7 linked regions of the Homo sapiens genome follow. The protein of the gene in region 5 purifies or fractionates together with the protein of the main gene of each other region. This does not show direct contact. Each region holds a gene or a part of one and is shown on either strand. Other genes may lie near its edges. The genes, in order: CBR3, MAB21L4, EHD1, PLCXD1, CCR1, CLPTM1 and GSTM1.

The links.
Region 1: the proteins of CCR1 (region 5) and CBR3 purify together in Homo sapiens (affinity purification with mass spectrometry; one large-scale study listed by BioGRID and IntAct). This does not show direct contact.
Region 2: the proteins of CCR1 (region 5) and MAB21L4 purify together in Homo sapiens (affinity purification with mass spectrometry; one large-scale study listed by BioGRID and IntAct). This does not show direct contact.
Region 3: the proteins of CCR1 (region 5) and EHD1 purify together in Homo sapiens (affinity purification with mass spectrometry; one large-scale study listed by BioGRID and IntAct). This does not show direct contact.
Region 4: the proteins of CCR1 (region 5) and PLCXD1 purify together in Homo sapiens (affinity purification with mass spectrometry; one large-scale study listed by BioGRID and IntAct). This does not show direct contact.
Region 6: the proteins of CCR1 (region 5) and CLPTM1 purify together in Homo sapiens (affinity purification with mass spectrometry; one large-scale study listed by BioGRID and IntAct). This does not show direct contact.
Region 7: the proteins of CCR1 (region 5) and GSTM1 purify together in Homo sapiens (affinity purification with mass spectrometry; one large-scale study listed by BioGRID and IntAct). This does not show direct contact.

The regions. Positions count from the first base shown.
Region 1 is NC_000021.9:36,133,811-36,137,969, forward strand, and holds the start of CBR3 (carbonyl reductase [NADPH] 3), read left to right. Parts: upstream 1-1,268; 5' UTR 1,269-1,382; coding exon 1,383-1,671; intron 1,672-4,014; coding exon 4,015-4,122; intron 4,123-4,159. UniProt on the Homo sapiens protein: Catalyzes the NADPH-dependent reduction of carbonyl compounds to their corresponding alcohols. Has low NADPH-dependent oxidoreductase activity.
Region 2 is NC_000002.12:240,893,327-240,897,694, reverse strand, and holds the start of MAB21L4 (protein mab-21-like 4), read left to right. Parts: upstream 1-1,538; 5' UTR 1,539-1,697; coding exon 1,698-2,211; intron 2,212-4,368.
Region 3 is NC_000011.10:64,850,927-64,854,621, forward strand, and holds the end of EHD1 (EH domain-containing protein 1), read right to left. Parts: coding exon 3,407-3,695; 3' UTR 716-3,406; downstream 1-715. UniProt on the Homo sapiens protein: ATP- and membrane-binding protein that controls membrane reorganization/tubulation upon ATP hydrolysis. In vitro causes vesiculation of endocytic membranes. Acts in early endocytic membrane fusion and membrane trafficking of recycling endosomes.
Region 4 is NC_000023.11:294,674-298,388, forward strand, and holds part of PLCXD1 (PI-PLC X domain-containing protein 1), read left to right. Parts: intron 1-3,715.
Region 5 is NC_000003.12:46,205,514-46,209,549, forward strand, and holds the start of CCR1 (C-C chemokine receptor type 1), read right to left. Parts: upstream 2,801-4,036; 5' UTR 2,769-2,800; intron 1-2,768. UniProt on the Homo sapiens protein: Chemokine receptor that plays a crucial role in regulating immune cell migration, inflammation, and immune responses.
Region 6 is NC_000019.10:44,979,270-44,982,984, reverse strand, and holds part of CLPTM1 (putative lipid scramblase CLPTM1), read right to left. Parts: intron 1-3,715. UniProt on the Homo sapiens protein: Involved in GABAergic but not glutamatergic transmission. Binds and traps GABAA receptors in the endoplasmic reticulum (ER).
Region 7 is NC_000001.11:109,686,368-109,690,735, reverse strand, and holds the start of GSTM1 (glutathione S-transferase Mu 1), read right to left. Parts: upstream 2,920-4,368; 5' UTR 2,863-2,919; coding exon 2,827-2,862; intron 2,620-2,826; exon of another isoform or gene 2,567-2,619; coding exon 2,491-2,566; intron 2,064-2,490; coding exon 1,999-2,063; intron 1,689-1,998; coding exon 1,607-1,688; intron 1,512-1,606; coding exon 1,411-1,511; intron 466-1,410; coding exon 370-465; intron 283-369; coding exon 172-282; intron 1-171. UniProt on the Homo sapiens protein: Conjugation of reduced glutathione to a wide number of exogenous and endogenous hydrophobic electrophiles. Involved in the formation of glutathione conjugates of both prostaglandin A2 (PGA2) and prostaglandin J2 (PGJ2).

The sequences.
Region 1 (4,159 bases), on a different chromosome or scaffold from region 5:
ATAGCCCCATATCCTTAAAACAAGGTTCCAAATGATCTTTTTTTTTTTTTTTGAAAAGTCTCACTCTGTTGCACAGGTTGGAGTGCAGTGGTGCAATCTCGGTTTACTGCAACCTCCGCCTCCCGGGTTCAAGCAGTTCTCCTGCCTCAGCCTCCTAAGTAGCTGGGATTACAGGCACGTGCCACCACACCCAGGTAATTTTTGTATTTTTAGTAGAGATGGGGGTTTCACCATGTTGGTCAGGCTGGTCTTGAACTCCTGACCGCGTAATCCACCCGCCTCAGCCTCCCAAAGTGCTGGGATTACAGGTGTGAGCCACCGCGCCCGGACCAAATGATCTTTAGGAGAAAAAAGAAGGAAATACTGGGGGAGGCACAGTAGGAGATCACAGCAGGGGCCCACCTCCGGAACCTCAAGTAAGGACTTGAGAGAGAAGGTAGAGTCAGAGTAACAGAGACACAGGCGGGTTAGCCAGCTCTGCATGGAAAAGGCTGAGTCGTGATGATGTCATGGTTCTCCCCAAATCTCAAAGTCACTGATCAAACAACTCAGTTTACACTGAAGACGATGGATGAGACTCTAATTTTGTGCCCACAGCTTGACACACCTTTGGGAATTTGGTTTAACTTTCTTTGCCGGTACACAGATCTGTGAGAACATATGATCAATCCAGATCTTTATAGATCTATATCCTCCCTGGACAAACCTAAATGCAGACACTTTTAGCACCCGTAGGAGTTAGGTAGGATTAAATAAAAACATTCCCTCCCACTTGGGGGCACATTCACTGGGAATCCCAGAGCGATGTCGCCTGCCCACACCTGCTAAGTGCGCTCACAGGGCATCTAGTTCCCTCTCTTGAGTTCCTTTTAAGCAAGCAAGGCAACCTATGTCCAGAGAAGCAGTTACTGTGTCTAAGTAAGTCACTGCATCTTAGGAAAAAGCAAACATTCGCATTTTGCAGTGCATGATGGGCGCACACCCAAGAAAATTACTCAGCACTTGTTTTTCTCACTTTGGGGTTTTCCCAAAATAATTTCTTCAGTCCAGTTGCCAAGAATCTGGAGCCCCCGACTGACCCATCAAGGTCCGATTTGGCTTCGGACACCTCGCAGATCACCCCGCGGCTCAGAGCCCGGATCCTGAAGGGCGCAGCGTGGGCAGGGGGCGGGCCCGGGAGTTGGAACAGAGGGCACAGACGGCCCCTCCTCGGAGGGGAGGGACCGGAGCCGGGGCCTTTTTCTTTAAGACTCGCAGCACTGGATCCCAGAACTTAGTCTGCGCGGCGGCATTGACACTAGCTGGGCTCCTCGGGGCGCGCCCCAGGTGGTCCGAAGCCCGGTCCGCCCTCCACGCAGGTGCCCCGCGCTCCCCGCTCAGCCATGTCGTCCTGCAGCCGCGTGGCGCTGGTGACCGGGGCCAACAGGGGCATCGGCTTGGCCATCGCGCGCGAACTGTGCCGACAGTTCTCTGGGGATGTGGTGCTCACCGCGCGGGACGTGGCGCGGGGCCAGGCGGCCGTGCAGCAGCTGCAGGCGGAGGGCCTGAGCCCGCGCTTCCACCAACTGGACATCGACGACTTGCAGAGCATCCGCGCCCTGCGCGACTTCCTGCGCAAGGAGTACGGGGGGCTCAACGTACTGGTCAACAACGCGGCCGTCGCCTTCAAGAGTAGGTGCAGGGCTTGGGTTGGGGCCCCCTGGAGCGCTCCGAGGGTGCGGAGGTGGCCAGCCGCAGGCTCCCCACCCGTCCACTTGAGTGACCGAGGAGGGTGGCGCCGACCCCTAGGGATGCGCTCAGCCCACGCCTCCCGCGAGGCGGTTTTCGCTTTCCGTGATTCGCTGAGCCCCAGGCGGGCCCGGGCGACAAACAGCGCGCCCCGCCCGCCGGCCTGTGAGGGCCTGTGCGCGGCCCGGGGCCCTCCCCGAACTGTCAGCCGCTGTTGTGTGCAGGAAAACTGGCCTCCTGGGAGGGGGCAACGCCCTGCTAGAGTTCATCAGCTTTCCTTCCAACGCGAGAAACATTTTCTCTGCAAAGAAACGGTCTCCGCTCGCTTTGGGCTTTCGCTTTCCTTGAAAGGGCGCATTCATAGATGCCCGGAGGCATTTGCTCGGGAAAGGAAATGAATCGCTAAAACAGGATTAGCGCGCGCTTGCCCTTGGTGGACTTGACAATTTGTGTAATGCAGAGCTTTGATAGGCTCTGGCAAAAAGGAAGCGAGCCTTCTCGTTCCCCCACCCCCGCCCGGGGAGCTTATGTTTGTTATAAAATACGTGCGTGTGGTCTTAAAAGCATCTTCCTTAAGGAGAGGGGCGGGGATCAAGAGATTGCTTATTCTAACTACTACTGAAGAAAATTACAGGAGGGCGCAGTGGCTCACGCCTGTAATGCCAGCACTTTGGGAGGCCGAGGCAGGAGAAACGCTTGAACCTGGGAGGCAGTGAGCCGAGATCGCGCCACTGCACTCCAGACTGGGAGACAGAGCGAGACTCCGTATGAAAAAAAAAAAAAAGTTACTACGGAGAAATAAACAGGCCGGCTTCACCTCCAACCTAGTGGGGAAAAAAAGCCTAAGAGGGAGTGAAATGAAGGATGGGGGAGCAGAAGTCTCCACCCCTCCCTTTGGCCCTAGGCACTCCGCATTGTTGTGCATGGGGACCTGAGACTTTCTTTGACCCGCACGGGCAACTCAGCCTGCCGGCTTTCTGAGAGCTGGGGTGCAGGAGTGGGGATTAACACCCCCTAATGCAGCCCTCAGCCATGGGCTGAGAGATTGGTGGATAAATACCCGGCTTCCTGGACGACAGGCGGAGGGACTTCCCCTTGCCTTTCAAGGTATGGGGAATGGACCACCAGCAGCTGCAAACCTGGGCGCTCATGGCAAGGCAGAATCTCCCGCCTTGCCCCACACCTGCTGAATCAAAATCTGCGTTTCCGCTGGGCGCGGTGGCTCATGCCTGTAATCCCAGCACTTTGGGAGGCTGAGGCAGGCAGATAACCTGAGGTCAGGAGTTCAAGACCAGCCCGGGAAACATGGTGAAACACCAACTCTACTAAAAATACAAAAATTAGCTGGGCATGGTGGCTCACTCCTGTAATCCCAGCTACTCGGGAGGCTCAGGCACAAGAACCGCTTGAACCCAGGAGGCAGAGGTTGCAGGAAGAGGAGATTGCACCCCTGCACTGCAGCCTGGGCGACAGAGCGAGACTCTGCCTCAAAAAAAAAAAAAAAAAAAAAAAAAAATCTGCATTTCAACAGAATCCCCAGCTCCCTCCTACGCACCTTTAAGTTTAAGAAGTGGTAGTCAAAGCCAAGTGTTCTCAAGGTGTGGCTGGAGACCAGTAGCTGTCACATCATCTGGGAACCTAGAAATGCAAACTCAGGCCAGGTGCGATGGCTCACGCCTGTAATCCCAGCACTTTGGGAAGCCGAGGCGGGTGGATCACATGAGGTCAGGAGTTGGGGACCAGCCTGGCCAACATGGCGAAACCCTGTCTCTGCAAAAAGTAAAAAAATTAGCTGGGTGTGGTGGCATGTGCCTGTAATCCCAGCTACTCCAGAGGCTGAGGCAGGAGAATCACTTGAACCCAGGAGGTGGAGGTTGCAGTGAGCCGAGATCGCGCCACTGCACTCCAGCCTGGGTGACAGAGGAAGAAAAGAAAGAGAAAGAAAGAAAGAAAAGAAAAGAAAGAAAGGAAGGAAGGAAGGAAGGAAGGAAGGAAGGAAGGAAGGAAGGAAGGAAGGAAGGAAAGAAAATGCAAATTCTGGAGCCCTTACTCCAGCCCTTTGCAATCAGAAACTCCAATGGTGAGGCCCAGGAAGCTGTGTTTTAACAGGCTCTACAAGTGATTCGGATGCAGACTAAAGTTTGAGAATCACCGACCTCGTTCTTAAAAATTGTTTTAAAATTAACTTGTTTTTCCTTTAGTTGTTAGGAGTTAGGATCCACTTTGTCATGTGAGTTTCAGGGGGAAAAATATGACTTTCTTTTTGTTTCTTTCTCTTTTTGAAAGGTGATGATCCAATGCCCTTTGACATTAAAGCTGAGATGACACTGAAGACAAATTTTTTTGCCACTAGAAACATGTGCAACGAGTTACTGCCGATAATGAAACCTCATGGTAAGCCCAACGTGTGGACAGTCGGGTTGCATCCCTC
Region 2 (4,368 bases), on a different chromosome or scaffold from region 5:
GCGAATTCAGAACACCGGGAGGTTCCTGGGAAGGAGGAGCTGGGACACTGAAGGTGTCATCAAATCACAGATGTTGAAGCCAAGGCCCAGAACAGGCAGATGAGCTCCCTGGGCCACTGCGGCCGAGGGTGAGGGGTAGGACCCCAGCTGCCCTGCAGCAGCGTCCACCTCCCCCAGGCCAGAGTCCTGTGGAGATGGAGGAGTGTGGCACACGGCTGTGTGTGGGGACCTAGGCAGGCCGTGGGTGAGGGCCCAGGACAAATGGGGCCTTGAACCTGAATGGCTGCCCTCGGGGAGGGGGACACGTGCTCTAAGCAACTCCAGGGAACAGGAGTGGGCCAGCTTGGAGGAGGGATATCTGTCTCTCGCTTGACCGTGGGCTACCCTGTGAGGTGGTGAGCTCCCTGTCCTGGGAGGCATGGAAGCAGAGACCCGCTCACTGGGCTGCAGCCCCTCATAGGGGCTTCCAAGCACCAGGAAGTGAGTGGCTGTTGCCCCCTGCCCCACCCCTCCTGGGATCCTGGTTCTGCCCACAGCTCTGACTCAGATGCAGCTCCCCGGGGGGTGAGAGGCCCACGTGCGGTGGCTACAGGGGCAGCATCTCCACGACGCCCCTGTGGGGCCATCTCCATGTTCACTGTTTGCAGACACCCCTGTGGCTGAGCACCCGATGCACTCGGCCAGCTGGCAGGGCCAAGGGTCGATGGGGCGGCTCCCTGCTGGTTGGGACTTGCACGGCCCTGAGCAGGGGAGGGGGGCGGGGCTGGCAGGGTACCTGGTGCAGGTGCTGGAGGGGGATGGTGGGGCGAGTTTCTCCACCTGGGTGAGGTGGAGCCACGGAGACTGCTTTTCTCCAGAACCAGACGAGCTCCAGCTCCCAGGCTAGGTGGGTGCCAGCTCCTCTCAGGTTGGAGGCTGGGCAGGGTGGGGTGGGGTGGGGTGGGGACTGGTAGCCCAGGGGTCCAGGGCCCAGATGGCTGGATGCACAGCTGGGGCAGAGGCAGGAGCCATGCCAGGACTGCAGCCTGTAAGCCGGGCACAGGTGTCTGAGGGGAACATTGCAGAGACGCAGCCTCCAGGTTCCCAGCCTTCCAGGCAGCCTTAGAGAGTCGGGGGCTCCCCCACAGCGGGGTCTGGGCAGCCACCGCCCTGCCTCCCCTTCCTCACTGAGCCACGGGGTGCCTTGTGTTCCCTCCAACCTGGCAGGGAGGCTGGGGCAGGGGGGCCTGATCCAGATACCCGGCCCCTGGGCTGTGGGGAGGAGGGTGGAAGGAGGCCCATCAGCAACACACAGAGGCTCCCATCCCAGGGACGGCACAGTCCAGCGGCAATATTTCTCCAGGGACCCCAAGCCTGGCTGGGACAGGGGCCGTGCCTTGGGCCTAAGATGAGAGAGCTCTTCTGAAGGGAGGGAGGAGGGTGGTAACCAAACCCAGCCCCCGCCTGCCCTGCATGGCCCCTGTGACATTCCCAATTGCTGGGGACTGACTCACCCCCACTTCAAAGGCCTTAAATAGTTCAGCTATTTCACCTGCCACACTGTGCTGTCACTCTGGAATTCTGCTGTGTGGGAGCTGAGGCCCCACCTGCAGACCTGCTGCTCACCTGGGCAGGTGCCTCCTCACAGCCCATCTGCACAGCTGGCCTGCGGAGTCCTCCTCAGGGGCCACTGGCCCTCACCTGCCACTGTTGAAGGGATGCCTGCCCCTGCTCTCCCCACCTCAGCCATGGCCGTGCAGGTGCCCCTGTGGCACCACTACCTGCAGGCCATCCGGTCCCGGGAGGCGCCGCGTGCCCAGGACTTCCAGCGCGCAGAGAACGTGCTGCTCACGGTGCTGGAGCGCGTGCATGCCCTGGACCCCCGCTTCATCGTGGACTACTCCCGTGGCCTGGAGGCCTTCCAGTTCGCCCTGCGCTCCTCTGAGGACCCAATGGACATGGAGGTGCCCCTGTGGGTGGATGCCGAGGCTCTACTGATTGAGGAACCAGAGGCCACCCAGCCGGAGGATGGCCTTGAATTATGCCACCTGGGTGTGCCCAGGGAAGGGGCTGGCCTGGAGCGGTGGACCACCGAGGATACCTTCACTGCCTCCTCGGAGGGTGACGCCAAGTGCCGTGGACACATTGTGCCCAGCAAGGTCCTGTGTGTCCTCAAGGACCTGCTGGTAGCAGCCATCGTACACTGCAAGCACCACAGTCTCATCGCACCAGGTACAGGCACAGCCCACTCTGCACGCGTATCTGCGTGTACCGAGGGGCTGCTGTGTGGGTGTCTGTGTGCAAGTGTGTGAGTGCACATGTGTGTGATTGCCATGTACGTGCACACAGGGTGGCGACTGTCTTCTGTGTGTGACTGCACGCACAGGCATGTGTGCACGTGTGTGACACTGTGCAAGTGTGAACAGTGTGTTGGGGCACAGAAGTCGGGAGACCTCACTTAGGTCTTCCAGCTCCAAATGCCTGTAACAAGACAGATGACGTGTTCCGTGTCGTGTGTGTTTGCACGGGGGTTCCACGGCTGCCAGTCGTCCAGTGGCTGGAGTCTGGGGCAGCTGCTTCACTGGTGGCCTTGCAGGAGGGTCCCTCACACGGCTCTGGGCAGGCGGCTCTCTTGCCAGTCACAGCCTGTGACCTCGAGGCTCCCCGAGGCCATCCCGTGCCCACTTCCAGTGTCTGATGATGTTGCACCAGGTGGGAGGGGTGTGTGTGTGCCTGCCTGCGTGCGCGTGAGTGCAGGGGTGTGAATGCGTGTGCAGGTGTGTGCCCGTGTCTTATCAGCTTATGGCTGAGTTGTCTATTGGTGTCTTGAGCCCCAAGTGGGCTCTGAGGCTGGGCTTCTGCGTGGACCAGGGGCTGGCCTCAGTCTCTCCTCTGGGGCCTTTTGTTTGTTTGTTTGTGAGACTGAGTCTCACTCTGTCACCCAGGCTGGAGTGCAATGGCACGATCTTGGCTCACTCCGCCTCCTGGGTTCAAGCGATTCTCCTGCCTCAGAATCCTGAGTAGCTGGGATTACAGGCATGGGCTACCACGCCTAGCTAATTTTTGTATTTTTAGTAGAGACAGGGTTTCACCATGTTGGCCAGGCTGGTCTCGAACTTCTGACTTCAGATGATCCGCCCACCTGGGCCTCTCAAAGTGCTGGGATTACAGGTGTGAGCCACAGCACCAGGCCCACCTTTGGGGCCTTGTTGATATGGTCCAGGGTGAGTCTGAGCCCAGGGCTCCTTCAGCAGGGGCTGCCTGGACGGCGACGGTCGCTGGGAGGACAGGGCTCAGCCTGTGCAGGGGCCAGGATGATGGGGACCCTGAGTGGTACAGCCATCCTCCAGGGGGTCAGGTTGTCCTGGAAGGGAACTGGGGACTGGAACAGAATTTGTCACATGTGAGTCACCACAGTCCTCACAGGGCTTTGTTGCCTCGAGTCACCTCCCTAGTATTCATCTGACCCTCATGTCCTCCGTGAGGTCAGCGGGTGGGGTCAGCTCACCTTCGCGAGAGGCCATGATCTGCTTGGGGATGCCCGGCGCTGGGGCCTGCCTGGAGGCAGGGGCACCTCCTGTGGGTTCTGGGGAAGGGTGTGCTGCCACCGCCGCACATAGCCAGGCCTCCAGTCTGCATGCTGGGAGGCCAGGAGGGTGGATTCTAACAGAAGCCCTCCCCAGACCTGTCTAGTGCCCTGGGGTAAGTGACTGACCTGACCTCTGGGGTGTCAGCTTCTGGTGCTCCCAGCCAGCCCTCACCCTGCCCCCAGCCCCTCGGGCTTCCTGCTCCAGCATCTTCTGAACCTCTAATCATGCAGGCCATGGGGTGGGTATTTCTATCTTCTTCCCGACCTCACTTGGCCCTGTCCCCACCTGTGAGACAGGCCCACCCATTGGGGTGAGCAGGAGGCCGTGCCAGGCCCTGAGTCATTCGGATTTGCTCTAAGCCGCCAGGCTCCTCACGCCCCCAGAGTGCCTCCTGAGAAAGCAGACTCGATACTGCAGGCCGCGCCCACAGCCCCTGAAGCTGCGCTGGGCTGGGCATGCAGGGAGATTCCAGGCATCGTTTCCTGACACTCACCTTAAAGGGGAAGTGGCAGCCTAGGTGACAGGGGTCAGGCTGCCCCCACCCTGGGAACCGGTGAGACCAGCCCGGGGCTGTGGCCTGTGGCCGGGCTGGTGCAGTTGCAGCTGCCTTCCAAGCTGCCAGGTCACGGGCAGTGAGCGTGCGTGGCCCACGGCAGATGAGGTGTGTGGCCACTAGAGGCGGCTCTGAATGGCAGGCACCTCAAGTGCTGCATGGGGGGGCCCTCCTTCTCTTTCATTGATGGGAACTGAGGCCCCTGTGGGATGGGCCGCCCAGGCAGCAGGGCCAGGGTTGCCCTGA
Region 3 (3,695 bases), on a different chromosome or scaffold from region 5:
CCAACCTTGGTCTCCCAAAGTGCTGGGATTATAGGTGTGAACCAAACCCAGCCAGAAATGTTTATTCTGAATGAGATCTTACAAGGAACTGCAACATAGAAAACAGCTGTGCATGGCCAGAGGCAGTGGGCGGGCCCTTTGCCTCTTGGGTCCTGGGCTGTGAGGTGCTGCGTGGGCGACAGATTGCCCTGAAGGCCTCAGTCCACGGGCTCTGGTAGCTGGGTGGCAATGCCCCTCCTTTGCCCCAGGCCAGCCTCTGAAGAGGAGGCTTCTTCCCCAGGGTCATGGCCAGCTATGGATCTAGGGAGGAGGCGAGGGCTGGGACTAGCCCTCTAGGTGGGCGGCCACATCTCTGACCACATCCTCTGGTCCTCCCTGAACCCCGGTCGGAGCCCAAAGATGATCCCCAACCTGTAGAACCGAAACCAGGGCTATGAACTCTGGGGCAGACACCTGCCCTCAGCCCCTTTCAAGCCTCAGATCAGCAGGCGCTTCCTGGGGCAGCCCCAGGGGGTTCACAGCCCCTCTGTGGCCACACAGAGCCCTGCAGGTGGAGTGCTCCGGGAAGGAGAGCGGGCGGCCAGGCAGCACTTCCCTTCCTCCTAGTTCAGGGGCACTGCTAAGTTCTGTGCCTTCTCTAATGTGCTCACAGCTTGAACAAAAATGCTCCACCTCCCTTGGGTGACCCCTGCCCCAAGCTTTCAGGACCCCAGGCTGGAGTGACAGCATTTAACCTTTAATGTGGGTCTCTCAGCCCTGAGTACAGCTGCAGTCTAAGGGTGGGGTTGGGGGGATCTACCGTTTTTTCCTCTTAGTGTGTGCTTTGGATTAGTAACCTGATGGAAAGCACGCTGGAGTTGGACGGCCTGGTTTGCATCTGCTTCTACCACCTTTGTTATTTCGGCAGTCCTCAGTCTCGGACTCTCCCTCTGTGAAATGGGGGAACATGAACTTCCTCAGATCGTGACAGCGCAGCTCCACCTGGCACAGGGTGAATGCCCACAGGTGGCAGCTGAGTGACGCAGGGAGGGCCGGCCAGCCCTGCAGCAACTGAAGCATCCACTGGCACCTCAAGTGCTGGTCATAGGACCAGACACCACCACACCAGCTAGGCTCGGAGCACACAACTGGGTCCCTGAAACCCTCAGGAACTTGTTTCTGTCCTGCCTTCTGCCAGAGGGGCTGGAGCAGCCTCTACCCATGGCACCTCAAGTCTGCACCCTTTTATGAAGGGTCACTAATCAGTCACCCTTCCCTCTGCTGGTATAAACAGTCCCCCATCTGTGACATCACCTGGGCCTGACTGGCCCCACCCTTAGTTGCATGTTTGTCACAGGCTATCTGCTTTGTCTTCAGAGGCCCGGCTTCCCTGTACTTAAACCGTCCTTGGGGCTAGCAAGGAGCCAGTCTGGCTCCAAAGCCCAGAAACCCTTGTTTACTTGATGCCACCCAGTGCCGAGGGCCTGCAGGTGCCCACTCATCCGTCTGTGGCTGAGGGGTGCCAGCCTAGGCCTCAGCTATCAACATCCTCCCAACTGTTTCCCCCCTCCCCACCCCAAGTGAACTGCTCAGCTCCCACCTTGCTCAGGGAAGGGGGCATCACCCCAGAAACCCTTTTCCCTACAGGCCTGGCCCTCTTAGTAGGAGGGGGCAGCTACTGCCCAGCAGAGCAGGACTGGGCAGGGTTGGTCACCTTGCCCCGGCTGCCTTGCCACTCTGTCCCTGCTGGCATCACCCCCTCAGACACCAGGGGAGGATGGCCCAGGACTGCTGCCCCTGGAAAAGACAAGGAAGCACCCGAAGCTTTCGCACAGTTCAGACTTTTTAATGCAAGGAGAAAGTCTTCACTTCTCTTCCCACAGGTGTGAACAAGCCACTGCAACTTCAACAGTGACTTCCCGGCAAGGACAGCGCCCGCATCCATCCTCACCTAATACTGTATGGAGTGACGGGCTAAGGAGAACAAGGCCAGTTCCTGCAGACTCCGAGCAGCGCTGGGGAGAAGCTCCCTGAGACCCCCGCGGGAAAGCCTGGTGGGAAGCCCAGCTGTGTGGTACCTGGTGCTCCACCTGCCTTGGTGCCATCACAGCCCGGACAGTGGCCACTGGCCTGCAAACGCGCCCGGGCCCTGGAGGCTGGGCTCAATGGCCCCAGGCAGAGGAGGGGGAGGCGGCCTGAACTGGCCCGGGCCACTGGGCCGCAAGGTTCTGGTTTCTTATTGCTCAACCTGGGGGCCAGGGGCGTTGTAAGGACATCCAAGTGAGCTGCCCTCCTTTGCTAAACAGAGGAGGAAGGAAGGTAGGAAATGAAGGGGGATTACAGAAGGGGCTGGGTTTTCCCCTGGTCCCCGCTGTCTGGACATGAGAGCCTAGCCAGAACCACGGGCTTCCTCTTACCAGCACCAAGCTGTCGTGAGGCCCCGCCACCGCCACCCACCACCACCTCCCACTGTGGAGGGTGCGTCCCAAAGCTCCAGTTAAGTGAGAGGGTAGGGCAGGAGCTGGGATGACCACCCTTCCTCAGCCAGGAAATGCAACACTGGGGTCCAGGAACGGGGTGCTCCCCGGGTACCCACACCTAATGCCCCCTGGGCAGGGCTGCTCCTTGGCTGGAGGGTGGGAAGGGGAGACAAAAATCACAGCTTTTGAACAGTGGTTGGGAAGTTATTGGGAACTTTGGTCAAGTATGAAAGATATCACTTTACAGAACAGAAACTAGCTTATGTATTTTTCTGGAAGACATTCTCCTACTCCCCTGAACTCCCAAAAAAAGACCAAGGTGGCTGGGCCCTGCTTCTGTGACTGCTGAGCGGGGTTGCGCGTCGGAGCCGGTGGGGCGCGGGAGGAAAGGGCAGGGCCCGCGCACGGGGAGCCTGGGCCCGGGAGGGGAAGGCACAAGAACCCACTTCGCCCGAGAGCACGGGGGAGGCAGAGCCAGGTGAGGAAGGAAGCCACGGTCCCGTGAAGCAACCTCAGCTCAGAAGCACACGGAGGGTGCCTGGTGTTCCTGTCCATGCAGCCTCAGCCTAGCAGCTGCCAAAAGGGCGACCTGGCTCCCCCACGGTCGCAGTCGCTGCACTGTCCAGCTCCAGCCACAGCAAAGGCCGGGGGGCAGAGGCCGTGCACACAGGGCTGGCACACAGGGGAGGCGGCGACAAAGAACGCAGCCTCTAACGTTATATATTAAAATAGCCACAGTTCTTGTGCACACAATTCCATCCTCTCACCCCTGCCTCCCCCGCCAGGCCCAGGAACAGCCTTAAAAGAAAGATGGTGGTTTTCCTTTTCGAGAGGCGAGGAAACATCCGCTCAGTCTTTATGGACCTTGAGAAATGGTGAGGCTTCCCCTCCCCCCGTCTCTGCCTCCCGGCCGGGCGTGCAAATGGCAGGTGCGGGGCCGGGCGCCATCACTCATGTCTGCGCTTGGAGGGCGGCACCAGGTGCGGGGGCAGGTCGGCGGGCAGCTCGTGGCCCTCCAGCTTGACCTTGATGAGGTGGTTGGCCAGCGCGAACTCCTCGTCGTCCAGCAGCCCGTCCTTGTCCACGTCGGCCAGCTTCCAGATCTTCCCTAGCACGGTGTTGGGGAGCTTGGACTTCACCATCTCCTTCTTGGCGTTGGCGCCCGTGATCTTGCCGTTGACAGGGGACAGCGTGTAGAAGATCTCGTCGTAGGTGGGCTTGTCCTTGCCCACCACC
Region 4 (3,715 bases), on a different chromosome or scaffold from region 5:
CGCGCCTATAATCCCAGCTACTCAGGAGGCTGAGGCAGGGGAATCACTTGAACCAGGAAGGCGGAGGTTGCAGTGGGCCGAGATCGAGCCAGTGTACTCCAGCCTGGGCAACAGAGCGAGACTCTGTCTCAAAACAAAACAAGACAAAATCAAACTTCTGGGGTCAAGCGATCTGCTTGAACCACCATTCCCAGCCGAGTTGTGCAATTTAAAATCGTGAATTTCGGTGCAGTGGCTCACGCCTGTAATCCCACCACTTTGGGAGGCCGAGGCAGGTGGATTAATTGAGATCAGGAGTTTGCGACCAGTCTGGTGAAACCCCATCTCTAGTAAAAATACAAAAAGATTTAGCTGGGCGTGGTTGTGTGCACCTGTAATCCCAGCTCCTCGGGAGGCTGAGGCAGGAGAATTGCTTGAACCCGGGGGCGGAGGCTGCCGTGAGCCGAAATCGCGCCACAGCACTCCAGCCTGGGCAACAGAGCGAGACTCCATCTTGGGAAAAAAAAAAAAAGGTAACTTTTTTGTACGTGAATTTCACCACAATTTTTGTAAAAAAGCCACCGACGGGGTGTGAGGTGCAGACAGCGTCGGCAGCCACGGCCCCGTGTCCTCCGGAGGCAGGAGCCTGAGGGAGGGAGGGAGGAAGGTCCTCCCCGCGGGGACGGTGGCAGGTGGGGCCGTCTCGGTCCTGCAGCCTGCGGCTGGGTTCTCTCAAGGTGATCTTCACGGCCGCGAGGGCTGCTTCCCACAGGGGCAGCATGAAACCCAGTCACGGGCCGGGCAAAGGAGCAGGTTTTTTCAACTTGGTCTCTTGCCCTCACACAGGAACGAGGTTTAGAGACTTCAGAAATGTCTTTTTTTTTTTTTTGAGGTGGAGTCTCACTCTTGTTGCCCCGGTCGGAGTGCAGTGGCGCGATCTCGGCTCACTGCAACCTCCGTCTCCCGGGTTCAAGCCATTCTCCTGCCTCAGCCTCCTGAGTAGCTGGGACTACAGGCGCCCGCCACCACACCCGGCTAATTTTTTTTTGTATTTTTAGTAGAGACAGGGTTTCACCATGTTGGTCGGGCTGGTCTCGAACTCCTGACCTCATGATCTGCCCGTCTCAGTCTCCCAAAGTGCTGGGATGACAGGCGTGAGCCACGGTGCCAGGCGGAAAATTTTTTTGTTTGTGTGTTTGTTTTTTGAGACAGAGTTTTGCTCTTGTTGCCCAGGCTAGAGTGCAATGGCGCAATCTTGGCTCACTGCAGCCTTCGCCTCCTGGGTTCGAGCAATTCTCCCGCCTCAGCCTCCCACCACGCCCGGCTAATTTTTATTTTTAGTAGAGATGGGGTTTCTCCATGTTGATCAGGCTGGTCTCGAACTCCCGACCTCAGGTGATCTGCCCGCCTTGGCCTCCCAAAGTGGTGGGATTACAGGCTTGAGCCACTGTGCCCGGCCTTTTTTTGTTTGTTTTGTTTTGTTTTTGAGACAGAGTCTTGCTCTGTCACCCAGGCTGGAGTGCAATGGCGTGATCTCGGCTCACTGCAACCTCCACCTCCTGGATTCAAGTGATTCTCCTGCCTCAGCCTCCCGAGTAGCTGGGATTACGGGCACGTACCACCATGCTGAGCTAATTTTTGGATGTGTTTTTACTAGAGAAAGGGTTTCAGCGTGTTGGTCAGGCTGGTCTTGAACTCCTGACCTCATGATCCACCGGCCTCAACCTCTCAACGTGCTGGGATGACAGGCATGAGCCACCGTGCCCAGCCTAGAAATACGTGTTAAAAACCACTGAGAGAACTTGGCCATAAACGTCTGTTGCCTTTGCCGTCTCTGGCTGTGGAATCAGTCCAGCTGGTCAACACAGGGGCACTGGAACCTACCTCTGGGGGAGCTTCTTCAAATATGGCTTGCAGGAGATTCCGGCTCAGCAGATGTAGGTGGAGCCCCCAAATTTGCATTTCTAACTATTGCAGGGACCCCACTTTGAGAATCACTGGTCAACGTCAACCCTCTCTATAAGCCTCATAAGAGATGGCACAGACTTAGTGCCCAAGACAACAGCATTCTTCCTGTCTATCACATGGGGGATAAGAATGTGGACAAGTTTGGGGCCATATTATTCTGTCTCCCACATGGGATTAGGACGTGGACATCTTTGGGGCCATTATCCTGTCTACCTCATGGGGATTAGGACGTGGACATCTTTGGGGACATTATTCTGTCTCCCACATGGGGATTAGGACGTGGACATCTTTGGGGCCATTATTCTGTCTATCACATGGGGATTAGGACGTGGACATCTTTGGGGACATTATTCTGTCTATCACATGGGGATTAGGACGTGGACATCTTTGGGGACATTATCCTGTCTATCACATGGGGATTAGGACGTGGACATCTTTGGGGACATTATTCTGTCTCCCACATGGGGATCAGGACGTGGACATCTTTGGGGACATTATTCTGTCTATCACATGGGGATTAGGACGTGGACATCTTTGGGGCCATTATTCTGTCTATCACATGGGGATTAGGACGTGGACATCTTTGGGGACATTATTCTGTCTATCACATGGGGATTAGGACGTGGACATCTTTGGGGACATTATTCTGTCTATCACATGGGGATCAGGACGTGGACATCTTTGGGGACATTATCCTGTCTATCACATGGGGATTAGGACGTGGACATCTTTGGGGCCATTATTCTGTCTCCCACATGGGGATTAGGACGTGGACATCTTTGGGGCCATTATTCTGTCTCCCACATGGGGATTAGGACGTGGACATCTTTGGGGACATTATTCTGTCTCCCACATGGGGATTAGGACGTGGACATCTTTGGGGCTGTTATTCTGTCTCCCACATGGGGATTAGGACGTGGACATCTTTGGGGACATTATTCTGTCTATCACATGGGGATTAGGACGTGGACATCTTTGGGGCTGTTATTCTGTCTCCCACATGGGGATTAGGACGTGGACATCTTTGGGGACATTATTCTGTCTATCACATGGGGATTAGGACGTGGACATCTTTGGGGACATTATTCTGTCTCCCACATGGGGATTAGGACGTGGACATCTTTGGGGCTGTTATTCTGTCTATCACATGGGGATTAGGACGTGGACATCTTTGGGGCCATTATTCTGTCTATCACATGGGGATTAGGACGTGGACATCTTTGGGGACATTATTCTGTCTATCACATGGGGATTAGGACGTGGACATCTTTGGGGACATTATTCTGTCTATCACATGGGGATTAGGACGTGGACATCTTTGGGGACATTATTCTGTCTATCACATGGGGATTAGGACGTGGACATCTTTGGGGACATTATTCTGTCTCCCACATGGGGATTAGGACGTGGACATCTTTGGGGACATTATTCTGTCTATCACATGGGGATTAGGACGTGGACATCTTTGGGGACATTATTCTGTCTATCACATGGGGATTAGGACGTGGACATCTTTGGGGACATTATTCTGTCTATCACATGGGGATTAGGACGTGGACATCTTTGGGGACATTATTCTGTCTCCCACATGGGGATTAGGACGTGGACATCTTTGGGGACATTATTCTGTCTATCACATGGGGATTAGGACGTGGACATCTTTGGGGACATTATTCTGTCTCCCACATGGGGATTAGGACGTGGACATCTTTGGGGCCATTATTCTGTCTATCACATGGGGATTAGGACGTGGACATCTTTGGGGACA
Region 5 (4,036 bases):
GGTTGCCTTTGTAGGACTTCTCCCAGTCCCTGCTTTTTTGGCACTTGAATCCTTTCCAGTTGCTTATTAAAGATGCCTCCCCAAATGGAGCATTGGCTTTGGTGTAACCTACGAGCTTTGTGACTTTGGATAAATTATTTTACCTCTCTGAGCTTCATTCCTCATCTGTAATGTGGGAAAGCAACTCTTATCTTGCAAGGCTACTGTGAGGTAATGTATGAGAAAAGTGCTACCATCACCCTCCCACCACCACCACCTGGCAACAGCCAGGCCCCTTATTGAGGGCCTGGCAAGAGCCAGGCCAGGGCACTTTTCTTGGGGACCTTCCCTGAGAGAACTCCTTCACTGCAGGAGCCCTTCCCTGAGGCCTGACACCACCAGCACATCCCAGGCACCAATGTCCAGGATGTCCCTGGCTGGCTGGTATACCCTGTCTCCCACCCCCCTGCCAAATTTCTTTGTAGTTAATCTAGAAAGTGATTTTTCTTGATAACGGTGGACAATGATGGTCCCTTCCATGTGAATGACATTTGAAATTGTCAATCTATTGCCGCCAATCTAAATTGATTTGACCCAAATGCCAATCAGTAAAGTAGGTGGCACCTACTTTATAATTTCTATCTTAAACCTGGGTCTCTGGTGTTCTTCCTTCTACTCTCCTTAAGGAATGTTTCCTGCTTACACAATTCACATTTTTTTCAATAGCCATTGTAAAGGAAATTAAGGCACATGGAGGGTATAGGGCACCCTGGCTGGAAAGGGAGATACTCTATTAGGGTGAGAAGTGAGGAGCTTTAATTTTTTATCAAACCCATCCCCTGGCCCACTCCTCCATCTCCAGAGAGATCCAATCAGCCCTCTTTCTGGAGAGAGTCAGGCTAACGGTCACTAACAAAGCTGTGTTGGCAGTTTCTAATTTCTGCAGCCACAGCCATTGCTGATGAGGGCAGACAGTTCGGTTTGATAGTCAGCACTTTTCGGTGGGCTGGCAGGTTAACAGTGGAAGTATGCAAATAGCTTGGAAAGCACAAAGAGCAGCTAGTGCAAGCCTGATCCCATGAGTCCAGTTTCTGGGAAGGTTTGGCAAAGGCAAAGGCAAGTTGAGTCAACATTGTCAGGTGGCATTTTAAACCGAGTCACCTCCATACACCCCCTACCTCCAACCCATTTGTTATTTCCCCAACTTGTTAAGCCCCAGGCAACCACTCCAAGGCATGCTGTTCCTAAAGGGAGGTGATCTGGGGTGGGGCCCGAGAAGAGAAACCAAAGGACCATGTTGTCATCTAATCTGCCAGCCCTGCTGTAGTCTACTGCAGAAGTCTGCCTCAAGGCCACTGCACAGTGGTCAGCTATAGCCCTGGATCCTGGACCCTCCACTGCTAGTGTCCTCCAGCCTGGGAGTTGGTGAAGTCTCTGAGCAGAGATAGAGCAGTCTGTGATGGTGAAAGACACCCAGGCCTATGGTGCGCTGGCTGGCTTATACTGGTTTATAAATGCCAATTGCGTGCATCTCTTCCCCACTCCACATTCAGCATGTTGGTAGCTTGAAACTGACCACAGTGGGGGCATTTATACCATGAAAATCAACAAATGTTATAAAGCAGGGATCTTTTCTTCAGAAGAGTCAGTTGTTGAACATTTACCAGCACATCACTGCCCAGGCCCCACATTCTGAACAGTCCAGCACTGTCCCACTGCTCGGTGCGGGAACTAAAGGATCAGTGAGTGGCACATAGCCTGGTGCCAGGTTGTGCAAACTTTTGGGAGTTTCCATCTCTTCTTTGAAATCTGGGACCCACCAAGACCACCTATGAAGTAGATACCTATACGGAGCCACCATGCCCCTCTATCTTCAGAACAAAATCCTGACCTGTGTCTTTGTTAGTAGAGCAGAACAGATGCCCCCCAAGATCACCTGGCCAGCTCCTTGCCTTTGGGTGAGTGAAAGCCTACCTCTTCCAAAGATAGCAGTGCCAATTTTGAGGATCCTTGGTTCTAGTCTTCTTAAGAGATAGGTTCAGTATCAAATCATCCTTGCATCTGCCAAGATTTTTCTAGCTAATATTTCCCTCTTGCTATAATTTCTTCATACACCATGTTTGGTTTTCCTTTACATGGGGGAATTTGGCAAGCAATTTTTTTTTTTTTTTCAGACAGACTCTTGCTCTGTCGCCAGGCTGGAGTGTAGTGGTGCAATCTCAGCTCACTGCAACCTCCACCTCCCGGATTCGAGTGATTCTCCTGCCTCAGCCTCTTGAGTAGCTGGGACTACAGGCATGCGCCACCATGCCCGGCTAATTTTTATTTTTAGTAGAGACAGGGTTTCACCATATGGCCAGGATTGTCTCCATCTCTTGACCTCATGATCCACCTGCCTCGGTCTCCCAAAGTGCTGGGATTACAGCCGTGAGCCACTGCGCCCCGCCAAGTAATTTCTTATTGAATAGGTTTCCACAGAAAACACCTTTTGTCCCTTAGTACTGACTGACTTTCTTAATCAGTAACCAAAAGCCAATCCTTCAAGTAAGCTTCCTTTTTAGCAAAAAAGCCTATATTTCATCTGAGCACCCAGCTTTATAAATCCACCATTCTCAGTATTGCTACAGTATTAATTGCCTTGGAGATGCATCCATGGGCTACTTAGACATTTGCCCAGCCTACTCAAAGAATTCCCCCTACCTTTGAGGAGCCCCTAGCTGCATGCATGTCTTTGAACAACACTGCCCTCCACAGTAACAGATAAGACAGAAAAGACAAGTGACACTTACTCTGGTTCCAAGGGACTTTGTCCGTGAAGTCTTTGTTTCTGGGGCTTTCTGGGTTTTTATGAATTCAAGTTTCAAGATCCTGACCAAGTAGGAAGTACTCAGCTTCCTGTGTGATGATGGAGAATTGGCTCCAGTTTCACAGTCTTTCAAAATGACAAGAAAGGGACAAAGTTCTTCTTTTTGTGTGGTTTGGTGCTCATGAATGGCCACAACGCCCACCAGTGGCCACTTCCTGGAAGCCAAGTTAACTGCGAGGATTTTCTCTGCTCACTCTGAGCCTCTTGAGTCTTGGCCCTGGGAGCTCAGCCTTAAGGGAATTGGGGGCAGGTGAAGCTGAGTTGGGTGAGGTGGGTGGCAGTGAGATGTTCCCAGAATGTTTGGAGCAATTGAAGTGTGGGATGTGTGTATGTGGGATGGGGGCAGGGCATAGAGCTCTTGTGGTCAGCGGCAGACTTCTTTTTTTTCTTCTTCTTAAAGATTGTGAATGGAAGGATTTAAACTGGAACCCTGAGTCCTGTTCCTCAAAACTAACTGACATGGGTGCTCACAGAGGCAGCAGCTTCTCTTTGGCACCCTATGCCCCTCGGCTTCTGGGAGCTCATTGTCCCTCTGCTCTCTGCTCCCCAAGTCCCTCCCCACCAAACCTCAGAGAGTGGCTTTGCCCCAGGAACCTCCAGCATGAAGGGAATATAGGTCTGTTGGTTACATTTTGACCTTCCCTTTCTGATGCCCCATTCCTGTTTTACGTGATGGTCAAACATGGGCCAAGTTCAAATCCCAGCTCTCCACCTGTGACATGGGCAGATCACTCACCTTTCTAAGTCTTGGTTCCTACTCTGCTAAATGGGAGTATTGAATGCTTACCTCAGAGGAGAAGCACGAAGTCAACTTGTACATGAAAAATGTCAGAGTGCCTGGCACAGTGAAAAATGTCTGACAAATGATGAGTACTGTGACTCTCCTCACAACTGCCAACACCTACTCTGCCTCTGCCCTTGTGTCTTCTATAAAGTGGGGACACCCCTAACCTTCCTCACGGCATTGCTACAAAGCACTGTTTCAGAAATCATCAGTGTGAATGTGCTTTGAAAAGATCACTTGTCTCTTCATGGTTCAGTTTTCTTATCTGTAAAATGAAGAATTCAGACAAGATGGCCTAAGCTTGACATCTGATCATCACTCAGCTTCACCCCAAAGAAATAAATGGGGGTCTGCATGTGCCTGGCTATTTGCAGTACTTTGCTGGTGGATCAGTTTCCAAAGAGAAC
Region 6 (3,715 bases), on a different chromosome or scaffold from region 5:
GGTTCAAGCAATTCTCCTGCCTCAGCCTCCCGAGTAGCCGGGATTACAGGCATCCACCACCATGACCAGCAATTTTTGTATTTTTAGTAGAGACGGAGTTTAACCATGTTGGCCAGGCTGGTCTCAAATTCTAACCTCAAGTGATCCACCTGCCTCGGCCTCTCAAATTGCTGGGACTACAGGCTTGAGCCACCTGGCCAATCCTCATCATTTCTATGATTATTAAATCATTGGGGATCTTCCTCCTGTGTCCAGGGGGAGAAACCAACACTCAAGGGTTGACTTGGAGAAAATTCCAGGGGGACATGCCCCAATCGTGTCCACACCTGACAGAGACTGTCCAGGGAAGGGAGAGCCCCAGAGGGCAGCGCTGGCTGGTGGAGGGGGAGGCACAGGGGAGAGAGGCTTTGGCTCAGGCAAAGAACACATTCTGCAGCTTGGAGGCATCCAGACCAGATGGACCTGGCTCCTGTGGGGAGGAAAAAGCCCCCCTTTCTTGGAGGAAAATCTTCTAGAGCTGCACCATCCAGTATCAGGGTTGCTGGCCACATGCAGCTACTGGGCACTGCAAATATGGCTGGTCCAAACCAAGAAGTGCTATGATATAAAACACACGCTAGACCCTTTTTTTTTTTTTTGACATAGTCTCGCTCTGTCGCCCAGACTAGAGTGCAGTGGCACGATTTCAGCTCACTGCAACCTCTGCCTTCTGGGTTCAAGTGATTCTCCTGCCTCAGCCTCCCGAGTAGACGGAATTACAAGCGTTAGCCACCATGCCCGCCTAATTTTTGTATTTTTAGTATAGCTGGGGTTTCATTATGTTGGCCAGGCTGGTCTCAAACTCCTGGCCTCAAGTGATCCACCTGCCTCAACCTCCCAAAGTGCTGGGATTACAGATGTGAGCCACCGTGCCCAGTCACACACACTAGATTCTGAAAACTGACACAAGGGGAAACAAAAATGTAAAATATCTCACTTTTTATACTGATCATATGTTGAAACGAGAATATGTTGAGCTCAATTAAACTATTATTGATATTAATCTCATGGTTTTTCTTTACCTTTTTATTTATTTATTTGTGAGACAGGGTCTCCTTTTGTTATCCAGGCTAGAGTGCAGTGGTGTGATCACTGCAGCCTCAACCTCCTGGGCTTGGGTGATCCTCCTACCTCAGGCTCCCGAGTAGCTGGGATTACAGGCATGTGCCACCATGCCTGGCTAATTTTTGTATTTTTATTAGGGGGGGTTTTGCCATGTTGCCCAGGCTGGTCTCGAACTCCTAGGCTCAAGCAATCCTCTAGCCTTGGCCTCCCAAAGTGCTGGGATTACAGGTGTGAGCCATCACGGCCCTGGCCTTACCTTTTTATTATTTTATTTATATTTCTTTTTGAGACAGGGTCTCGCTTTGTTGCTCAGGCTGAAGTGCAGTGGCCTGATCACAGTTCACTGCAGCCTTGACCTCCTGGACTCAAATGATCCTTCTACCTGAGCCTCCTGAGTCGGAGGACACTACAGGTTGCGCACCACCATATCTGGCTAATTTAAAAAAATTTTTTGGCTCACGCCTGTAATCCCAACACTTTGGGAGGCCAAGGCAGGTGGGTCCCCTGAGGTCGGGAGTTCGAGACCAGCCTGACCAACATGGAGAAACCCTATCTCTACTATAAATACAAAATTAGCTGGGCGTGGTGACACATGACTGTAATCCCAGCTACTTGGGAGGCTGAGGCAGAATTGCTTGAACCTGGGAGGTGGAGGCTGTGGCGAGCCAAGATCATGCCACTGTACTCCAGCCTGGGCAACAAGAGTGAAACTCTGTCTCAAAAAAAAATAAAATAAAATAGGCCAGGCGCGCTGGCTCATGCCTGTAATCCCAGTGCTTTGGGAGGCCAAGGCGGGTGGATCACGAGGTCAGGAGATCAAGACCATCCTGGCTAACACGGTGAAACCTGGTCTCTACTAAAAATACAAAAAAACCATTAGCCGGGCGTGGTGGCGGGCGCCTGTAGTCCCAGCTACTCAGGAGGCTGAGGCAGGAGAATGGCGTGAACCCGGGAGGCAGAGCTTGCAGTGAGCCGAGACTGCACCACTGCACTCCAGCCTGGGCAACAGAGCAAGACTTCATCTCAAAAAAAAATAATAATAAATAAATAAAATGAAATAAAATAAATAAAATAAAATAAAATTTTTTTTTGTAGAGATGAGGTCTCCCTATGTTGCCAGGGCTGGCCTCAAACTCCTGGGCTCAAGCGATCCTCTGACTTTGGCCTCCCAAAGTGCTGGGACTACAGGCATGAGCCACCGTGCCTGGCCTCTCTTTACCTTTTTACTCTTTAGTATTTTTCTATTGGAAAAATTTTAATGCCTTCTCTGGCTCACATCCTATCTCCATGGGACGGAGCTGCTCTAGAATACTGATTATTGGCCTCTTGGGGATAAAAGGGGCTTTTCTTTTCTTTTTTTTTTTTTTTTTTTGAGATGGAGTCTTGCTCTGTCGCCCAGGCTAGAGTACAGTGGCACGATCTCGGCTCACTGCAATCTCCGCCTCCGGGGTCCAAAAGATTCTCCCACCTCAGCTTCCCGAGTAACTGGGATTACAGGCATGTGCCACCATGCCCAGCTAAGTTTTGTATTTTTAGTAGAGACAGGGTTTCACCATGTTGGCCAGGCTGGTCTCGAAGTCCTGACCTCAAGTGATCTGCTTGCCTTGGCTTCCCAAAGTGCTGGGTTTCCAGGCATGAGCCACCACAACCAGCCAAAAGGGGGCTTTTCTGAACTCACACTCTCCTTCACCCTGGAGTTTGTGGGTGGCTCACTCCAAGTCCTTCTATGTCCCTGCTTTGAGGGTCCCAGCTCCAAGGCTGGGGAGGGAGGCCTGGATGATCCTAGTATGCTTTTCAGGTTCACTGTCTGCAGGTTCTATTTTACAGACCAGACTGACTGTGAATAAACCTCACCACACAGTGACATGGATCACACTCACCAAAGACAAAACTGCAGAAAATACTGGCATCGATTTGGGTCAACGGGATGATTAGGTGATCGTCAAACGGGGTACAAGAATAGGGTGAAGAGCCACCCACCTGGGTCACCTTCAGAGCGACCTCTGAAACATCGGGCATTTTAGCCCAGACCCCTGACGTATCCCCCTGCAGGGAAACATCTGTGAGACCAACCCTGTAGGTCACACCCCCTCAAGCCACTTCTGCCTGGTTCTCCAAAGATCTCACCACATGGACGTCAGCCGGGTGGGACATACCAACGCAGCACATTCTTCAGACACACTCACTCAGAAAGGGGCTCAAGTAACTCCAGAAGACCTTTCCAAGTCATTTCTAGGGACCCACATAGAGTCAACTTTTCATTTCATCCAGTATAGGTGATAAAAAAAAATTACCATCCTTTAGGATATTTTTGTACTAAAAGAAGTAGGTAAGACCTAACTCATACAAATAGAATTCTGTCTGTTGCTGCGCCACCCAAAACCAGCCAGATGGATCTTAACCAAATCCACAGGGAATGTCTGGAATAGTCCTCAATAAAGTGAAAGCTAGGTGGAGTACACAGAACTCCCGTTAGAAGAATGGGGGGCTTTCTGAGGAAGCCATTCTCCAGCTCCGCTCAAACAGGTACAGCAAGAGATTTCTACGGCTGCCCATCAGGAGACAGAGGACTCAGGGAAAAAGCTCACAGAGAACCAAGCAAGGCTGGGTG
Region 7 (4,368 bases), on a different chromosome or scaffold from region 5:
TAAAATTCAAATTTCACACAATAGGTATAATGTGCTGGGCACGGTTCGTGGCATGAAACCAGTACTCAATACATGCGAGTTATTCTGTGTGTAGCTCCAGGACTGGGAAAACATCTGAAAGGAGGTAACGGAACAAGGGGCATCAAAGAGAAAGGAGGATGGGGGCATCACCTCAAAGCGGGAGATGAAGTCCTTCAGATTTGGGAAGGCGTCCAAGCACTTGGGCTCAAATATACGGTGGAGGTCAAGGACATCATAGACGAGAAAATCTACAAAAGTGATCTGCAGAAGGCCAAGAATATGTGGGCTGGAACCTCCATAACACGTGAAGCAAAACAGATCTCATTCCCCATATCACTCCTCCTTTACCTTGTTTCCTGCAAACCATGGCCGCTTCCCCAGAAACTCTGAGTAGAGCTTTAGCTTTTCAGGGAGTTCCTCCAAGTACTTTGGCTTCAGTTTCTCCTGAGGCAGAAAACAGCTGTCACCACCCTCGGACAAAAGCTCCCTGCACAGACGTGGCCTCCCCGGGGCTGTGGACGGCCCAGGCTGGCCATGGGCAAGCAGCCATCTTCCCCAAGCTGGAACTGGGGCAGTGCCCAGGCTTCAATTGGATACATCAGCATTTATTAGACTCTGACTGAGTGCCAGACCCTATCTAAACTGATCAGAAGGCAGAGAGGAATGAGATGCTGTCCCTGAATCTGTCCTCACTGACCTCCCAATAGCCTCTGGGTCAGCCCCAGGAGCGCCCAAGCACCTGGCAGCCTCTGGATCCAGACCAGCAGAATCAAGGATGCAAAGAACTAAGGGAGCTCAGGGAAAGTAGAAAGTTCCTTCTAATGGGGTGGCAGAAGAAAACAATGAACATTGACTAGTTTCCAGGGAGATGAGAAGTTCAAGTTGAAAGGAAGGAGGGAGAGGAATAAAGGCCCTCTGACTGCCTCTGAGCTGTCTGTTATGAAAATGCGCAGATCCCTGTGCATGTCAATGACAGCACTCAGAAAACTGTTGAGGAGAAGATGCAATTCGAGGGTGCCATTACATTCCTGAGTCTTCTACTTGAGTCTGCATATTCTAGGAGCAGGCAGGTGATGTGAACTGGCTGACAGAAATGACCCAGGACAGAAGTCAGAGGCCAGAGCTGATGAAGGAGATTCTGAACACAAACTTTACCATACAGGAACTGAATTTCTACCCTGGGATGCCTGGATCGTGTCCTAAGGTTGGTGGGAATTGCCTCTGCTTTTGTTGACATGACATTGGAGTCGTGAGAATAACTGCTGATAGTATGGGAAAGCACTTGGAGGATGAATGGTACCAGGGACTTAAGACCAGTGTGTGCAGGAATGCAAGAGTCCTGGCCCCAAATCCAAACTCTGTCAGATGCAGCTCACTGGGGACACTCACAAATTCTGGATTGTAGCAGATCATGCCCAGCTGCATATGGTTGTCCATGGTCTGGTTCTCCAAAATGTCCACACGAATCTTCTCCTCTTCTGTCTCCCCACCTGCCACCCACAAAACACAGACTCAATCTCAGCATCACAGCCCAGCCAAGGAGGAGGCCACCTTCCCCCCACACATTGCAGCCACCCACACTCACACAGGTTGTGCTTGCGGGCAATGTAGCACAAGATGGCGTTGCTCTGGGTGATCTTGTGAGCCCCATCAATCAAGTAGGGCAGCTGGATGGATGGGAAACCGGCGAAGCTCAGTTGGGCCACCAGGCTCCCCAGCATCCCCTTCCCATAAGCAAGAGCAGAGAGGAGACCGGGCACTCACTGTGCCTGCTCATGGCAGGACTGAAATAAGAATACTGTCACATGAACGAATGCAGGTGGACACAGAACATCATGGAAGGACTGTTTAGACAGCCAGGAGTGAGAGGAATTGGGCAGAAGACTCCTGATCTTAACACCTCTAAGCTGGGGAGAGGAGATGCAGTCAGAGACACGTTGCACTTTCCCCCAAAACCGCCCCTTCCCCTGCACCTACATTGGGAAAGTCCAGGCCCAGCTTGAATTTTTCATTCAGCCACTGGCTTCTGTCATAATCAGGAGCTGTGGTGGGGAAGAAGAAGTGAAAACAAACCTCCCCAGAGCCCAGCCCTCCTTCCCGGGGACCCTCCCACGGAGCCAGTGGCAAGATCCCTGAGACAGGTGGATCTAGAATCTGACCACTCAGTCCCACATCCCAGGGTTCAGGGACAAAGAATCCCGCTGAGGGCTCTGGACCCCACACAGCTAAGGCTTCCAGGGTTTAGGCAAGCCCTGAGGGACACCCGTCCCAATTAGACAGGGGGCCCAGCATCCCACCCCAGCATTCTGCCTTGCAAGGCCAGAGGGCTCCCTCACCGGGGCTCAGGGAAGAGACAGCCTGCAGCTCCAGCAGGGGAGGCCTGCAGAGGCAGCCACAGGTGGCCACCATGGGTTGCTTGGTGCCAACTTAGCGTGAGTGGGCAGAGCCCGAACACGAGGGTGCCATTACCGTCCCCCATCGTGTACTTCTTTTCCTCATAGCTTGAGTCTGTGTATTCCAGGAGCAGGCGGATGGCGTGGGCCAGCTGGGAGAGATGGCCCGCAGGTCGCGTCAGAGATGGAGGGTCCCTGACTTTGTCTGCACCAGGGAAGCCCCCAGTTTACACTGCACGTACCCGTTGCCTCCTCTACCCGCCCACACCCCCAACACACACACAGCGGCATGCACAGGCCCTTCTGAGGCGGGCAGCCCTGAAGAGGAACGGTCCCTAGAGTCCGTCCCGCAGCTGCTTCGCACTTCCCTCCCCTGCGCCCTCGTCCCACCGTCCAGCGGACCCTCGCTCACCCCGCGGATGTCCCAGTACCCCAGTATCATGGGCATGGTGCTGGTTGGTGCGGATTCCGCAGACAGGCCTAAACCGAGCAGGGCTCAGAGTATAAGAGCTCCGGAGAGGGGACAGGCGGGGCCTTGCTGCGACCCCGCCCCTCGGCCCGCCACAACCCGAAAGGCGCCATTCTGGAGGCCCGGGAGAGGGCGCCTGGGGCTGCACTCAGTAAGACTTCCTCCCGCCTCCCAGGCCCGAGGGTTCCGGGAGCGAAGTCAGGGCGCCCAGAAGCCCAAGGCGGGGCTCGGCCTCGCCAGCTTCCCTACCCAGCCCTGAGGCTCCACGAGTCCATCCAGCCCTTGCTAGGTCCACAGCGACTTGGCTGTGCGCTTGAGACACCAGCCAGATCCTAACGGAGCAAAGCTCTTCTCCCTTCTCCTCCCTGCCCGCGGTGTCCCTCAGCCTTCTCTCCGCTGCCGAGTTCCCAAGGGCTCTGGGAGACTCCGGCTGCAGGGGTCAGACTAAAAAGTGGTGGCCCCAACCTGGGAATTTAATTCAGCCCCTGTCACTGTAAGAGCAGGACTTCCTCTGATCCGAAAGCTACTCCCAGGGCTTAGTCTCCCCTCTAGCCCCGCCTACACAGGAACAGTGTCAGTGGTATAGGAAGGACCCCCAGGAAAAGGGCCAGAGTAAAGGAAATGTGGTCTGTGTTTTCTGTTAGGGGCCCTCGGGTACTGAGTCCTTCGGTCATCTGGCTAAGTACTGTGTAAATTAGCCACTTCGTATTTTGGCACAATTTATGAATCGAAATCCAAGGATCAGATCCAGCAAGTTGGTGAGGTATCTGAGGTGCCCCCTAGAAATGTCCAGCCAGTCCACTAGGTGAACCTCACAGAGACCGGAACAGCAACAGCAACAGTGAGTGCAGTGGCCACAGAGAGCAGGCGAGGGAGGATGGAAGAACTTCCCGGACCAAACTGAGGGTCCGGCTGCTATTTCTCTAGGCCCAATAACGAGATGCAGATCAAATGGGGAGGAAGAGAGGTTTTATTTCTGCAACCGGTAACAGGGAGAAGGCCTAGAAATTACCACCAGACCAACTCAATATTACAAAGTTTTCCAGAGCATATATACCTTCTAAGGTATATGTCTACAAGTAAGTGTGCATTCATCTAAAGACATAAGTGATTAACTTCTTTAATCTGTAACTGAGGTCTGGGTCCTGAGGACCTTATTCTGGAGCCTCAGTCTATTTATTTAATCTAAATGGGTCCAGGTGCGGGGGATGATTACCCTTATCTTGTCTCCTGCTAAATCACGGAGGTTTGGGGAGTTCCTTCAGACGCCCAATAAACTTGTTTGTGGAGGCCTGGGGAGTTTCTTCAGACTCACAATAAAACTTGTTTAATTCTAAATAGGTCCTGTTAAGAATTCCTTCATTGTTTTGTCATGCTTTAAGGCCCAGGAAAGGCCTAAGCAAAACTCTTGGTGGGCTTTTGTTACATCCAGCCTCTGTATAAAGGTACTGGCTTTTTTCAGCTTTTAATATTTAACTTCACCAC